Linked DNA regions of Homo sapiens: region 1 is linked to region 2. The links come from fine-mapping of genetic effects on gene expression. Tissue or cell type: whole blood. Region 2 holds a variant in brackets; the other region holds the start of a gene. All regions are shown on one strand. Distances are between the middles of the regions.

Region 1 (8,105 bases), 250 kb before region 2:
TGATAAACTATATTCTTCAGAGACAAGAAAAAGATATAAGAAGGAAATTTGAGGCATCAGGAATAAAGAGACAGCAACAGAAATAACTATCTGGTTAAATATAATGGCTACTTTTTTCCTTAAAATATGATTGATGGTTGGAAAAAATTATAATGTCTGATAGAGTATATAATGTATGTAAATATAAAATATAAGACAACAATATATATATGGTGCAGGGGAAAGGGTGATAAGGTTTCTATATGCCAAATGAAGCAGTAAAACAATGAAATGATCCGAAGTAGACAACGAAAAGTAAGTATTTTATAATTCCTAGAGCAGCCACTAAAGAATTATACAAAAAGATATAGTCAAAACCATAGTATATAAAATAGAATACTAAATAATGTTCAAACAGTCAAATGAAAGCAGGAAAGGGGAAACATAAATATGGAGCAGCTAGCACTCTCACCTATTAGTGGTGGGACTGGAAAATGCTTTTGGAAAACTGTCAGTTTCTTAAAAAGTAAAGGATTTATCTAGTAGCTCCACTGTTATGCATTAACTTCAGAGAAATAAAAGCATATGTTCATACAATGACTCATACATGAATTTTCAGAGCAGCTGTAAATGTATTAGTCCTGAACTGGAAACAACTCAGATGTCCATCGACAAGTGACTAGATAAACTGTGGTATATCTGCACAGTGGGATACTCCACAGCAAAAAAAAGGAATTGATACATGCAATAACATGGAGAAATTTCAAAATAATGTAATTATGCTGAGTGAAAGAAGCCAGACAAAAAAGATTCCATTTATATAAAATACTAGATATGCAAACTAATCTATAGTGACCTAAAGCAGATTAGTAGTTTCTAGAGAAGGAAGAGGGTAAAGCAGAGAAAGAAGGGAGACAGGGATTATAAATGACCGTCAAAAATTTTTTAGGGTTATGGATGTTCTCTTGATTATGGTAATGGTTTCAAAAGTAAATATATGTCAAAATTCATCAAATTGTATATTCTCATTTAATGTGCAGGGTATTGCATGTCAATTATACCTCAATAAAGTTGTAAAATGTTTTTTTAGAGGGTGTAAACTGTGAACACTGCATATCAGTGTTCATCCTTTTGCTCTTACATGATGACAAGGAAGAACAGTAGACATCTCCTATGAATAAAATGGAACTATATAATTGTTTAAGCAAAAACATCACTTAATGATGGAAATATTTTTAAAAAAATTTTAGGCTGTGTGGTAGCTCGCACATATAATCCCGGCACTTTAGGAGGCAAAGGCAGGAGGATCACTTCAGCCCAGGAGTTCAAGACCAGAATGGGAAACATAGGGAGACCCCATCTCTACGAAAAATTTAAAAATTAGCTAGGTGTGTGGGCACATGTCTGTGGTCCCAGCTACTTAGGAGGATGAGATGGGAGGATCATTTGAGCCTGGAAAGTCGAGGCTGCAGTGAGCTGTAACTGCACCACTGCATTCCAGCCTGGGTGACAGAGCAAGACCCTGCCTCAAAAAAAAAATATTTTTTTAATTTTTAAATACTTTATTTGTCTTAAACGTATAAGCAATCCTCACTTGGCACAGTCTGATATGAATTTCAGTTACCACAGTTTATTAACCGTGAGAAATAGCATAAAAGTTTGCTACTAGCTTTTCAGTTCACAAATCATTACATAAATAACATATGAATCAAAATTGACCAATTTGCAATTTTACTTCTTTCAAAGTCTATGGGTGATTGGTCACTGTGCATCTGTTATTCAGTTCACACACAGGCTGCAAAGCATGGAGGTTTGTTATTAATATTTCTGTGCCCTTGAGATAAACCCACATGGAATTTTACAGATTAAAAGAGGAAATTGGCCAAAAGAATGAAAGTGCACTAAAGAAGAGTGATAATACTAGAAGTGAAACTTGCATTAAACATAAATGGAGCAAATGAAAAAAAAGCTGCCTGTGGGAACATGCTGATTGTGGCAACAATGACACTGCCGCCATTTGAGACATTCTAGATATGCAGACTGAGGAAATCAGTGAAGGTGAACTTATAGACATAAATGAGGAAAAGTGATTGTGATGAAAGGCTGATGATGTGTCAGAGGAAGTGACACTGGCAAAAAAAACACATTAAAGGAACTCTCAGAGATATTTCACAACATTGAAAACGTAATGGATAAAATGTTGGAAACTAATATTTAAATTTCTCCAGAACGCAGAACTCATAAGCAACTGTGTTCTCCAAGTAAATATCTTCACAGGTTCCTCAATTAATGTGGGCAAAATTAAAAGTACAACTTGCTTCTTCCCTTTGGAAAACCCTCTCTCAGAGTATATTACCAACATTCAACTTCTTATACAAGGCATAGATCTGGGAATCATTATTCATTCTTCTCTTTTTGTCATTCACGTATCCACTCAATTTCCATGGCCTGTTGATTCTATTTCTCAGACGTTGTTCAAATCTCTCCACTATCTTTATTCTACTTGGCAACTCTGTGGCCCAGGCTTCCAACAACTCTCTCCCGGACAAGTGTAATCACAACAGTTACCTAACTTGGCTCCCACTCTTGTTCTCAGTTGCAACCCATTCTCCAAGCAGAAAACAAAATGCAATAGCTGTTACCTTATTCTCATCTTCACACCTCTACTCAAGTACACAAGGCTCTTCCTCATCTAGTTTCTGTCTACTTCATCTCTTGTCAATGGTCCCTACCCCAATTCTCCGCTCTAGTCATTCTGAACTTTGTTCAATTCCTGGCCTGTGTCCTCTGCCTTTAATAGGCTGCCTGGCACACTGTAGGAATTCACTAAATATGCAGACTGAATGAATGAACGAGTCCGTGGAGGGCAGTTATTCTTTGGAGTAACTTAAGAGAGAAGGAATACAGTACAACGAAGTATTCTTATTTAGGTTTATAGTGTCTTCACCTGAGCCCGCGGGGGAACCCCCCCCCCACCCCCGGGGAACCCCCCCCACCCCCGCCGCCCCCCGCCTGCAAGTTGTTACCAGTAAATAAAAGGGATCCTATTTTAGCAAGCCACACAGCATTAGAGGGCAAATAATAGTTTGGTGGCAGGAGAGCGATGAGACGGGAAAGTGTGGGGCAAAGCTTACAGTCATTGGTCCAGATTCTAACTGGCCTGTTAGCCAAAAAGTAAGGTTTTCTTTACCTCCGTGTTGACTCTGCTCTCCGAAGGCGAAGAGGGTCCTCCAAACCCGTTTGGCGTGCGGACAAAAACCCCAGCATATCGTGTCCTCACACCGGCTGGAGCACTGGACGTCGCCATGACAGAGCTCAGGGGCGGGACTGGAACAGCAGAGTCTCCCATTGGTCAGTCGGTGATATATCCGGCCAATGGTGAGCGCCGTTACTAGAAGGGCTCCAGGATGGAGGCCGACCTGACTTCTCCGCCTCGGTGGGCTGGGTCGGCGGCTGGAGCATTACCCCTACTGCGGGTCCCGCTGCTGGCAGCGCTGGAAACTGGGTGGACGGCATGGGTTGGTCTCAGGATTTGTTCCGCGCCTTGTGGAGATCGCTGTCAAGGGAAGTGAAGGAGCACGTGGGCACGGACCAATTCGGGAACAAATACTACTACATCCCGCAGTACAAGAACTGGAGAGGTGAGGTGGCGGCGTGGGCAGCGATTGCGTGGTCAGTGATTGCGAGGTCAGTAAAGGAGGGAAAAGTGAGAGCCCCTAGTCAACTAACGCATCATGCGACACTTAGGGTGTCACCGGAGAGAATTTCCCGAGTTCGTTCTCCCCTGTCGACCCCTTCACTCTGGCATCGGAGCCCTACCCGGCCCGGCTCTGGGCGCCTTGGCCCGGCCTCGTGCGTCCGCGGTCCCTACTACCCAGCGCCTTCCCCCGGCGTGCCCCGGGCTGCTTGCGCTGTTAAGGCGCACCACCACTTTCCTCCCAGCCACGCCTGTAGAGGAGCCTCAGTTTTAGCCCTGGACTGGCGACGGAGGCAGGGAAAAGTCCACGGAAATCTTTCACCAAAGGGGCTAGAAGGGCCAGGGGAGGGGTTTTTCGTACGCTGTTCCCCGCCTTGTGACCCAGAGCTGAGTGGTGTAATTGAAGAGGAGTATCTTCAGCGCCTCGGCTGTCTTCTTTCTTGGTGTTTACCCTTTTCGGTGGCACCCTGGCTCCGGCGCTGGCCCCATGCGCCTTCCTTACTACCAAGACTTGTCAGAAGTAGGTCCATATCCCCACAAGGCTCGCTGATTCCTTTCTCGGGAGTTGACATTCCAAGACCCCGTTGAGCTCAATTTAAGAAACGTGGCAATAATCATGGTGTTACTGTGTAGGATTCGTGCCAAGTAGTTGAGCGGGTTGTTTGGGGAGTAAGGAGGCGTTGCTGTCCATTGAAATCACACTGTGTAGCCGCCGTCGTAACCTCTTCTGTGTTGTTCCATCGCCGCATGCAGAAAATGTCAGGTTTTGGGCGAAGAGGCGTGGGTTAGAATCTCAGCTTTGACACCTGATAGCTCGGGAATCACGGAAAAAGTACTTGTCCTCTCCAAGTCTCAACATCCTCACTTGAAAGTTAGAGATAATATAAGATCAGCAATGTTGAGAAGCACTAAGACCTTTCCAAGATTATGTGCCATTCATTTCCCACACATATAAAATGTATTCTGTGATTTATCACTCAATTAATTTATTTTTGCCTGGCCTTTTTCTGTAACTTATTTTAATATTTAGACTTGTTTCCCTAATGAGCTCCTCTGTCAGGCAGGGAATATGTCTCACAAAAAAAGAAAAAAGCCTGCAAAGAACATAGCATGGTGTTAAGTATTTCTTGACAGGTTGCAAGCAGAGAGATGTTTCTTTTCCATAAGTTGTCAGTAAAATTAAAAATATGCAAACTGTCAGACTGAGTTTTTTTAAATTGAAATATAATTTACATACAGTAACATTCACCCTTTATGGTGTACAGTTTTATTGTTTTTGACAAATGAGTAGAGTAACCTCACTGGATTCAAGTAATAGAATAATTCCATCACCATCAGAATTTCCTCCAACTCCTTAGTAGTTCATTCCCACACCCTTTGGCAACTACTGATGTGTTTTATGGGCCTATAGTTTTGTCTTTTCTAGAATATCATATAAATGGAATTATACAGGATTTAGACTTTTGAGTCTGGCTTGCTTCACATAGCATAATGTAGCTGAGATTCATCCATGTGTCAGTAGTTGTTCCTTTTTATTGCTCAGTAGTATTCCATTGTATGGGTTTGCCAGTTTATCTGTTCACAAGCTGAAGGACATTAGGATGTTTCCAGTTTCTGTGATTGTGACAAAAGCTCTACAAACATTCCCATACAGGATTTGTGTGAACGTAAGTTTTCATATCTCTTGGGTAAATATCTAGTAGTGGGATTACTAAGTTGTGTGATCAATGTGTGTTTAACTTTATGAGAAACTACCAAACTGTTTTTCAAAGTGGCTGTACCATTTTGTATTCCTGCCAGCAATGCATTAAAATTCTAGTTGTTTCCACACCCTCACCAGCACTTAGTATTATCTGATTTTTGGGTGTGTTTTTATTTTTATTTTAGCCATTTTGATAGGTATATAGTGGTATCTCATTGTGATTTTAAGTTTCATTTTCCTAATGCCTGAGGATGTTGACAGTCTTTTCATGTGCTTATTTACTATCTACAGATCTTCGGTGAAGTATTGTTCAAACCTTTTGCCCATTAAAAAATCCATTTATGGCTGGGTCCGGTGGCTCATGCCTGTAATCCCACCACTTTGGGAGGCCGAGGTGGGTGGATCACCTGAGATCAGGAGTTCCAGACCAGCCTGGCCAACATGGTGAAACCCCATCTCTACTAAAAATACAAAAATTAGCTGGGCATGGTGGCACGCGCCTGTAATCCCAGCTAGTCGGGAGGCTAAGGCAGGAAAATCACTTGAACCTGGGAGGCGGATGTTGCAGTGAGCCGAGATCACACCACTGCACTCCAGCCTGGGTGACAGAGTGAGACTCCACCTCAAAAAAAAAAAAAAAAAACAAGCCCAAAAAACAACAAACAAATATATTTATACCAGTTTTTGTATCATTCATTTATATAGAGATACAATACCATTAAAGTTTCAAATTAACAGTCATGTCTATTCTACAATAACATGAATATTTTATTTTTACATATTCTCACTAATTTGTATATTTTCTTACATAATTGTAATTGCATTTTGAGAGTTTTATTGAAGTATAATTGACAAAAAAAATTGCCCATGCTTAAAATGTATAATTTGGTAAGTTTTGACATATGTATATATCTGTGAAACCATCAACACAGTCAAGAAAATTAACATATTCAATATCCACAACAATTTGTTGTGCTCCTTTCTAGTCTTGCCTTATGCTTCTGCTTCCATGGATAGGCACTCATCTGATTTCTGACACTATACATTAGTTTGTATTTTTTATAATTTTTATTTAGTTATTTTTATTTGTTTATTTTGAGATGGAGTCTCGCCCTGTCGCCCAGGCTGGAGTGCAGTGGCGCTATCTCGGCTTACTGCAACCTCTGCCTCCCAGGTTCAAGTGATTCTCCTGCGTCAGCCTCCCAAGTAACTGAGATGTGTGCCACCCTGCCCAGTTAACTTTTTGTATCTTTAGTAGAGACGGGGTTTCACCATGTTGGTTAGGCTGGTCTTGAACTCCTGGCTTTGTGATCTGCCTGCCTCGGCCTCCCAAAGTGCTGGGATTACAGATGTGAGACAGTGCGCCTGGCTAGAATTTTATTTAAGTGGAAGCATACAGCACATATTCTGCTTTTTTTTTTTTTTGTTTTTTAGGTTCTTCACTCAGCATAATTATTTTGAGATTCATCCATGTTTTTGTGTTTATCAGTAGTTTATTTCTTTTTAATGCTGAGTAATATTCCATTGTATGTATATACCATAATTTGTTTATCCATTCACCTGTTCATAGATATTTGGGTTGTTTCTAGTTAGGGGTTATTACAAATAAATTATGAACATTCATGTGTAAGTCTTTGTATGGACTTATGTTTTTATTTCTCTTGATGTAATATTTAGAAATGGAATGGCTGAGTCAACTTGTTAGGTGTATGTTTAACTTCTTAAGAAACTGCCTAAGTGGTGGTACCGTTTTACCTTCCCACCAGGAGTGTATGAGATTTCCAGTTGTCCTATATCCTTATCAACACTTGGTATGGTCAGTCTTTTTAATTTTAGCTCTTCTAGTAGGTGTGTTGTGGTATCTCATTTTTTTTCTTTAGTTTTCTGTTTGCTATTAGTTGGTTTTTTTAGATTCTATTTTTAAAATACAGTAAAATTAACTTTTAAAATTGGTGTATAGTTCTATAAATTTGAACACATGTGATTCATGTAACCAACACCAAAATCAGGATACAGAACAGTTCCGTCACCCTGAATAACTCCCTCATGCTACCTTTTTGTAGTTACAATCTCTCCTCATCCCTAACCTCAGCAACCACTGATTTGTTCTCTGCCATTATACTTTTTTCCATTTGAGACTGTCCCACATGTATACTTATACCATATGTAACCTTTTGAACCTGGCTTCTTCTATTCAGCATAATGCCTTTGAGATTCATTACGTATATCAGTAGTTTGCTCCTTTTTACTGCTGATTAGTATTCCATGTTAATGGATGTACCAGTTTGTTCATTTACTCATTAAAGGGCATTTGAGTTTAGTTACTTGCAGTTTTTGGTGATTATGAATACAGCTGCAAGAAACATTCACATATGGGTTTCGTGTGAACATAAGTTTTCATTTTCCATGAGTACATACCTAAGAGTGTGAGTGCTTGGCCATAGCAGCTCCAGCTTACTCTGTAAAACGGAAATAACAGTACCTACTTAGCCTCACAAAGTATTTTTGCTACTCAAGAGAGACAAATTGGATAACGTAGCATTTAAGAGAATGGGATTTAATGTCGAAATCAGTTTGACTTAATTCACAGAGACCTTTTACTTGGTCATTTTTAAAAATTTATCACTGATTTGTAGTTTTCAGCATAGAGATCATGATATGTTTTGTTAAATTTATTATAAAGTATATTATATTGTATTGTTATTATAAATGATGCTTTAAAAAACG
Region 2 (8,108 bases):
TGTCCTATATGCCACATTTTTTTAACCACTCATTGGTTGATGGGCATTTAGGTTGGCTCCATATTTTTGCAATTGGTGAATTGTGCTGCTATATATATGTGTGCATGTCTTCTTCATATAATGACTTTTTTGGGGGAGGTCCAAAACATACTTTTCATCTACTAACTCTGTGTATCCCTATATGTAGGAATATATGTAGATGCAATAAAGTTATATAAAAAGGAAAGTAAGGGCCGGGTGCAGTGGCTCACACCTGTAATCCCAGCCTGAGCAAGAGTGATTAAAAAAAAAAAAAAAAAAAAGGTAAGTAAGGACATGATAAAAACAAGATAGGCTGTGTGTGAGGAGAAGATGGTAGATGAAGGTTATTTCCAAGTCTCTAGGTTTCATCTGAGATGTCGGGTCAAGGGAGCTAATTACATTATTTAAATATTTTAGTTAAATATTATAACTAAAAGAAGTTCATACATAAACCAATGATAAGTATATGTTATAAATTATAATTAATCCAAATCTGTGTATCTCAGTTTCAATAAAAAGAAAAAACTTATGCAGGAAAGGAAATATAGTATATTATGTGGCACAGGTGAGGATAGCATTTAAGTAATGTGAATGAATACTGAATGGTGATCTAACTAAAATTGTCCATAGAGCCAAAATTTAAAATTAAAAGTGTGTATTTATGTGGATGAACAGGATGCAAAAGATAAGCAAATCTTCATCTTCTATACTGGGAAATCAGCAGATAATGGCTAAAATGGAAAAGTGAAGAAATCATATAATAATCATTATTTGAAGTAAAAACGTAAAGAAAGAGAATCTGCTACCAGGGTTCAAAATGGTTGCCTGGAGGTACAGTGGTGGAGTTGGGAGTGAGAAAATAAGTTGATATTTATTTATAACAAGATTGTTAAGGTTGTTTGACTCCCTAAACTGCTTATAAAATCGGTAAATTTAGTTAAAATAAAAATTAAAAATAATTTTTAAACAATATCAGAACTAACTAAAAATAAAAGAAATATGTAGTACAAAATAATGAAAACTCATATCTGAGTATACTTTGCCTAAAACTTATCCTATCAATTAATCTATTATTTCAACCAATTGGTTTTCAGCCAATTCCTTTACTCTTTTTCACATGGCAAAAGTATGCTATGCCTGCTTTCAATTAAAAAAAAAAAGCTGAAGAAAGTATGTGCGGTTCATCTGCATGGATTTTTTAATTTTTTTTATTTGAATTTAATTTAATTTAATTTTAGGTTCCAGGATGCATGTGCAGGACATGCAGGTTTGTTACATAGATAAACATGTGCCATGGTGATTTGTTGCACTTATCAACCCATTAGTTAAGTATTAAGCCCTGCATGCATTAACTATTTATCCTGATGCTCTCCACCCCCACCACCAACAGGCCCCAGTGTGTGTTGTTCCCCTCCTTGCGTCCATGTGTTCTCCTTGTTCAGCTCCCACTTATAAGTGAGAACATGTGATGTTTGGTTTTCTGTTCCTGTGTTGGTTTGCTGAACATAATGGCTTCCAACTCCATCCATGTCCCTGCAAAGGACATGATCTTGTTCCGTTTTATGGCTGCATAGTATTCCATTGTGTATATGTACCACATTTTCTTTATCCAGTCTATCATTGATAGGCATTTGGATTGATTCCGTGTCTTTGCTATTGTGATTAGTGCTGCAGTGAACATACACATGCATGTATCTTTACAATAGAATGATTTATATCCCTTTGGGTATATACCCAGTGACGAGATTGCTGTGTCAAATGGTATTTCTGGTTCCAGGTCTTTGAGGAATTGCCATGCCATCTTCCACAATGGTTGAACTAATTTACATTCTCACCAACAGTGTAAAAGCATTCCTGTTTCTCCACAGCCTCACCAGCATCTGTTGTTCCTTGACTTTTTGATAATGGCCATTCTGACTGGTGTGTGATGGTATCTCATTGTGGTTTTGATTTGCATTTCTCTAATGATCAGTGATGTTGAGCTTTTTTTCATGTTTGTGGGATACATAAATGTCTTCCTTTGAGAAATGTCTGTTCATGTCCTTTGCCCACTTTTTAATGCAGTTTTTTTTACTTATAAATTTGTTTAATTTACAAGTAAATTCTGAATATTAGACCTTTGTCAGATGGATAGATTGCAAAAGTTTTCTCCCATTCTGCAGGTTGTCTGTTCAGTCTGATGATAGTTTCTTTTGCTGTGCAGAAGCTCTTTAGTTTAATTAGATCATATTTGTCAAGTTTTGCTTTTGTTGCAATTGCTTTTGATGTTTTCATCCTGAAATCTTTGGCTGTGCCTATCTCCTGAGTGGTATTGCCTAGATTTTCTTCTAGGGTTTTTATAATTTAGGGTTTTACATTGAAGTCTTTAATTCATTTTGAGTTAATGTTTGGATAAAGTGTAAGGAATGGCTTCAGTTTCAGGCTTCTGCATGTGGCTAGCCAGTTCTCCCAGCACCATTTATTAAATAGGGAATCCTTTCTCTATTGCTCATTTTTGTCAGGTTTGTCAAAGATCAGATGGTTGTAGATGTGCAGTCTTATTTCTGAGTTCTGTATTCTGTTCCATTGGTCTATGTGTCTGTTTTTGTACCAGTACCGTGCTGTTTTGTTTGAAGTTGGGTAGCATGATGCTTCCAGCTTTCTTCTTTTTGCTTAGGAGTGTCTTGGCTATATGGGCTCTTTTTTGGTTTCATATGAATTTTAAAGTAGTTTTTGCTAATTCTGTGAAGAATGTCAATGGTAGTTTAATGGGAATAGCAATGAATCTATAAATTACTTTGGGCAGTAAGGCCATTTTCATGATATTGATTTTTCCTATCGATGAGTTTTTCGATTTGTTTGTGTCTTCTCTGATTTCCTTGAGTAGTGGTTTGTAGTTCTCCTTGAAGAGGTCCTTCACTTCCCTTGTTAACTGTATTCTCTTTGTAGCAATTGTGAATGGGAGTTCATTCATGTTTGGGCTCTCTGCTTGTCTGTTGTTGGCATATAGGAATGCTTGTGATTTTTGCACATTGATTTTGTATCCTGAGACTTCGCTGCAGTTGCTTATCAGCTTAAGAATCTTTGGGCTGAGACGATGGGGTTTTCTAGACACAGAATCACGTTATCTGCAAACAGTTTGACTTCCTCTCTTTCTATATGAATACATTTTATCTCTTTCTCCTGCCTGATTGCCCTGGCTAGAACTTCCGATACTATGTTGAGTAGGAGTGGTGAGAGAGGCCATCCTTGTCTTGTGCTGTTTTCAAGGTGAATGCTTCCAGCTATTGCCCATTCAATATGATATTAGCTGTGGGTTTCTCATAAATGGCTCTTATTATTTTGAGGTATGTTCCATCAATACCTAGTTTATTGAGAGTTTTTAACACGAAGGGATTTTGAATTTTATCAAAGGCCTTTTCTGCGCCTATTGAGATAATCATGTGGTTTTTGTCTTTAGTTCTGTTTATGTGATGAATTATGTTTATTGATTTGTGTATGTTGAACCAGCCTTGTATCCTGGGGATGAAGCCGACTTGATCGTGGTGGATCAGCTTTTTGATGTGCTACTGGATTTGGTTTGCTAGTATTTTATTGAGGGTTTTTGCATCAATATTCATTAGGGATATTGGCCTGAAGTTTTCTTTTTTGTTGTATCTCTGCCAGGATTTGGTATCAGGATCATGCTGGCCTCATAAAATGGGTTTTCAGTGGTTTGGAATAGTTTCAGAAAAAAATGGTACCAGCTTCTTTTTGTATCTCTGATAGAACTCAGCTGTAAATCTGTCTGGTCCTGGACTTTTTTTGGTTGGTAGGCTATTTATTACTGCCTGAACTTCAGAACTCATTATTGGGCTATTCAAGAATTCACCTTCTTCCTGGCTCAGTCTTGGGAGGGTGTATATGTCCAGGAATTTCTCCCTTTCTTCTAGATTTTCTAGTTTATTTACATAGAGGTGTTTATAGCATTCTCTGATGATTGTTTGTATTTCTGTGGGGTCAGTGGTGATATCCCCTTTATAATTTTTTATCGTGTCTACTTGATTCTTCTCTTTTCTTCTTTATTAGTCTAGCTAGCAGTCTATCCATTTTATTAATTTTTTCAAAAAAGAGCTCCTGGATTTGTTAATTTTTCAAAGGGTTTTTCATGTCTCTTTCTCCTTCAGTGCCACTCTGATCTTGGTTATTTCTTGTCTTCTGCTAGCTTTGGGGT[A/G]TGTTTGCTCTTGATTCTCTAGTTCTTTTAATTGTGATGTTAGGGTGTCAATTTGAGATCTTTCTAGTCTTTGATGTGGGCATTTAGTGCTATAAACTTTCCTCTTAACACTGCTTTAGCCATGTCCCAGAGATTCTGGTGGATTGTCTCTTTGTTGTCAGTGGTTTCAAAGAACTTCTTGATTTCTGCTTTAATTTTATTATTTACCCAGGAGTCATTCAGGAGCAGTTGTTCAATTTCCATGTAATTGTGTGGTTTTGAGTGAGTTTCTTAATCTTGAGTTCTAATTTGATTGTGCTGTGTTCTGAGAGACTGTCGTGATTTCAGTTCATCAAAAAAAAGATTATTTTGCTTTTGCTGAGGAGTGTTTTACTTCCAATTATGTGATCGATTTTAGAGTACGTGACATGTGGCACTGAGAGGAATGCATATTCTCTTGTTTTGGGGTGGAGAGTTCTGTGCATATCTATCAGGTCCACTTGATCCAGGGCTGAGTTTAAGACCTGAATATCTTTGTTAATTTTCTATCTCAATAATTTGTCTAATGTTGATAATGGGGTGTTAAAGTCTCCCACTATTATCATGTGGGAGTGTAAGTCTCTTTGTATGTCTCTAATAATTTGTTTTATGAATCTAGGGTCTCCTTTATTGGGTGCATATGTATTTAAAATAGCTCTTCCTGTTGAATTGAACCCTTTACCATTATGTAATGCCCTTCTTTGTCTTTTTCAATCTTTGTCGGTTTAAAATCTGTTTTGTCAGAAACTAAGATTGCAATCCTTGCTTTTATCTGCTTTCCATTTGGTTGGTAAATTATCCTCTATCCCTTTATTTTGAGCCTATGTGTGTCTTTGCACATGTGTCTCTTGAATACAGCACACTAATGGGTCTTGACTGTTTATGCAGCTTGCCGTTCTGTGTCTTCTCATTGGGGCACTTAACCCATTTACATTTAAGGTTAATATTGTTATCTGTGAATTTGATTGTGTCATCATGATTCTAGCTGGTTATTTTGCAGACTTGTTAATGTAGTTCCTTTATAGTGCTATTGGTCTTTGCACTTCAGTGTATTTTTGTGGTGGCTGGTAATGTTTTTTCCTTTCCATATTTAGTGCTTCCTTCAGGAGCTCTTGCAGGGCAGGCCTGGTGGTGATAAATTCCCTCAGCATTTGGCTGTCTGAAAAGGATTTTATTTCTCCTTCACTTATGAAACTTAGTTTGGCCAGATATGAAATTCTGGGTTGGAAATTCTTTTCTTTAAGAATGTTGAATGTTGACCCCCAATCTCTTCTGGCTTGTAGGGTTTCTGCTGAGAGGTCCACTGTTAGTCTGATGGGCTTCCCTTTATAGGTTGCCCGGTCTTTCTCTCTGGCTGCCCTTAGCTTTTTTTTCTTCATTTTAACCTTGGAAAATCTGATGATTATGTGTCTTGGGATTGATCTTCCCATGGAGTATCTTAATGGGGTTCTCTGGATTTTGTAAATTTGAATGTTAACCTGTCTTGCTAGGTTGGGGAAGTTCTCCTGAATGATATCCTGAAGTATGTTTTCCAACTTGGTTTCGTTCTCCCTGTCTCTTTCAGGTACCCCAATCAGTCGTAGTTTCAGTCTTTTTACATAATCCCATAGTTCTCGGAAGTTTTGTTCATTCCTTTTCATTGTTTTCTTGTCTGCTGTCTTATTTCAGTAAGATAGTCTTCAAGCTCTGAAATTCTTTCCTCTGCCTGTTCTATTTGGCTACTGATACTTGCAGTTGCATTGTGAAGTTCTTGTGTCGGGTTTTTCAGCTCCATCAGGTCATTTATATTCCACTCTAAACTGGTTATGCTGGTTAACAGCTTCTGTAATGTTTTATCATGGTTCTCAGCTTCTCTGCATTGGGTTAGGATATGCCCCTTTAGCTTAACAAAGTTCATTATTACACGTCTTCTGAAGCCTACTTCTGTCAATTCATCCATTTCAGCCTCCTCCTAGTTCTGTGCCCTTGCTAGAGAGGTATTGCAATCACTTGGAGAAGAATAAGCACTCTGGCCTTTTGAGTTTTCAGCATTTTTTGTTGTTGTTGTTGATTCTTTCTCATCTTTCTGAGTTTATCTAGCTTTGATCTTTGAGGCTCCTGACCTTTGAGTGGGGTTCTTGTGGGGACTTTTTTGTTGATGCTCTTGTTGCTTTCTGTTTGTTTTTCTTTTAACAGTCAGAATGCTCTTCTGTAGGGCTGCTTCAGTTTGCTGGGAGTCTACTCCAGACCCTGTTTGCCTGGGTCCCTCCCACACCTGGAGGTGTCACCAGTGGAGGCTACAGAACAGCAAAGAAGACTGCCTGCTCCTTCCTCTGGGAGCTCTGTCCCAGAGGGGCACCACCCTGATGCCAGTGGGAATGCCCCTGTATAGGGCGTCTGGCATATCCTGTTGTGGGGGTCTCACCCAGTCAGGAGACATGGGATCAGAGACCCGCTTAACAAAGCACTCTAGCTGCTCCTCAGTGGAGAGGGTGTGCTGTGCTGGGGAAATCCCACTCATCCAGACTGCCCTGACTCCTCAGAGACACCAGGCGGAAAGACTAAGTCTGCTGATCCGCAGAGACCATGGCTGCCCTTCCCCTACGAGGCTCTGTCCCAGGGAGATGTGAGTTCTGACTATAAACCCCTGGCCTGAGTAGCTAAAATTCCCACAAGGAGGCCCCACTGGTTGAGGAGGGACGGGTAAGGGTCTGGCCTAAAGAGTCAGTCTGGCCATGATCTGCCACAGCCACTGTGCTGTGCTGTGGGGAATTCCTCCTGGGTCCAAACCACCCAATCTCCCCAGCATCCACAGGGGAAAACCAGCAGACTGGAGCTGCAGTGGTGGCTGCTGCCCCTCCCACTGGGAGCTCAGTCATCTTAGGCAGCAGGAAGCCACAGTGATAATGGCCACCCTTCCCCCTGGGAGCTCAGTTGGTCTTAGGCAGCAAGCAGCTGCAGTGATGACAGCCGCCCAAGCCCCTGGGAACTTGGTAGTCTTAGTCAGCCTCCAGCCGAAATGTCCGCTGAGAACCTGCACAGCTCTGTGCTGGGAACCAAAGCCCTGGTGGTGTGGGCTCATGAGAGGGGGTATCGTGATCTGTGGGTTGCAGAGATCTGTGGAAAATGTGTGGTTTTCCCAGGCCGTGTAGCACAATCACTCACCGCATCTCTTGGCTGGGGTTGGGAGCTCCCCTTCCCCTGTGCAGCTCCTGAGTGGGCCATCACTCCACCCTGCTTTTCCTTGCTCTCCGTGGGTCACGCCAACTGCCTAGTTAGTCCCAGTGAAAGAACCTGGATACCTCAGTTGCTGGTACAGGATTCACTTGCCATTTTCGTTCTCAGTGGGAGCCTCTGACAGCAGCTGTTTCTGTTTGGCTATCTTGGCCCCTCCCCCAGCACAGATTTTTATAAAACTAATGGCTATAGTGCACAGTCCTAAGATTCCGAAAAGAGGTTAAACTTTTATTTGGGAATAATACACTGAAAAGACAGGTACGATGTTGTTCTGATTGAAAAAGCTCCATAAAATAATTGAACACGTACTATTAGGTAAACTGAAAACTAGAAAAATTATTATCTAAATGATGTAACATTATTAAGCACTGTGACAAGGATTCTAGCAAAACTGCAAAAAATCCTGTTCCGCACTTCTGGTATAAAATATCTTTTTGTTCAGGCATGATGGGGCACTGTGTCTGCTAGCCATAGTCGGCATGTTTTATCTTCTAGTTAACGTATATCAAACCCAGCACTCAAATACAACTTTCCAGATCCTGGATGTGACAGTGAAGCACTGTTCAGAGCCCATTTTCTTTGGCCATTGATCTCAGATGCACCCTGAAACAAAAGTATTTACAACAACAATGAAAGATGAGTTTGCATGGAACATTTAAAC

Evidence for each region. PIP is the estimated chance that this variant, and not a neighbour inherited with it, causes the effect.
Region 1: ERCC8 starts here. The variant in region 2 is fine-mapped to the expression of ERCC8 in whole blood (INTERVAL, PIP above 0.99).

What each region holds. Positions count from the first base shown.
Region 1 is chr5:60,941,763-60,949,867 of GRCh38, forward strand. ERCC8 (ERCC excision repair 8, CSA ubiquitin ligase complex subunit) reads right to left here and starts at 3,308. Exons shown (of 12, transcript NM_000082.4): 1 at 3,170-3,308. The coding sequence starts at 3,246. NDUFAF2 (NADH:ubiquinone oxidoreductase complex assembly factor 2) reads left to right here and starts at 3,443. Exons shown (of 4, transcript NM_174889.5): 1 at 3,443-3,620. The coding sequence starts at 3,494. RefSeq lists an enhancer at 4,079-4,208.
Region 2 is chr5:61,193,655-61,201,762 of GRCh38, forward strand. The region is part of intron 3 of SMIM15-AS1 (SMIM15 antisense RNA 1); the gene reads left to right. Among named protein-coding and RNA genes, the nearest start is that of SMIM15, 35 kb to the left of the region's middle. The variant A/G (reference allele first, on the strand shown) is at 4,214.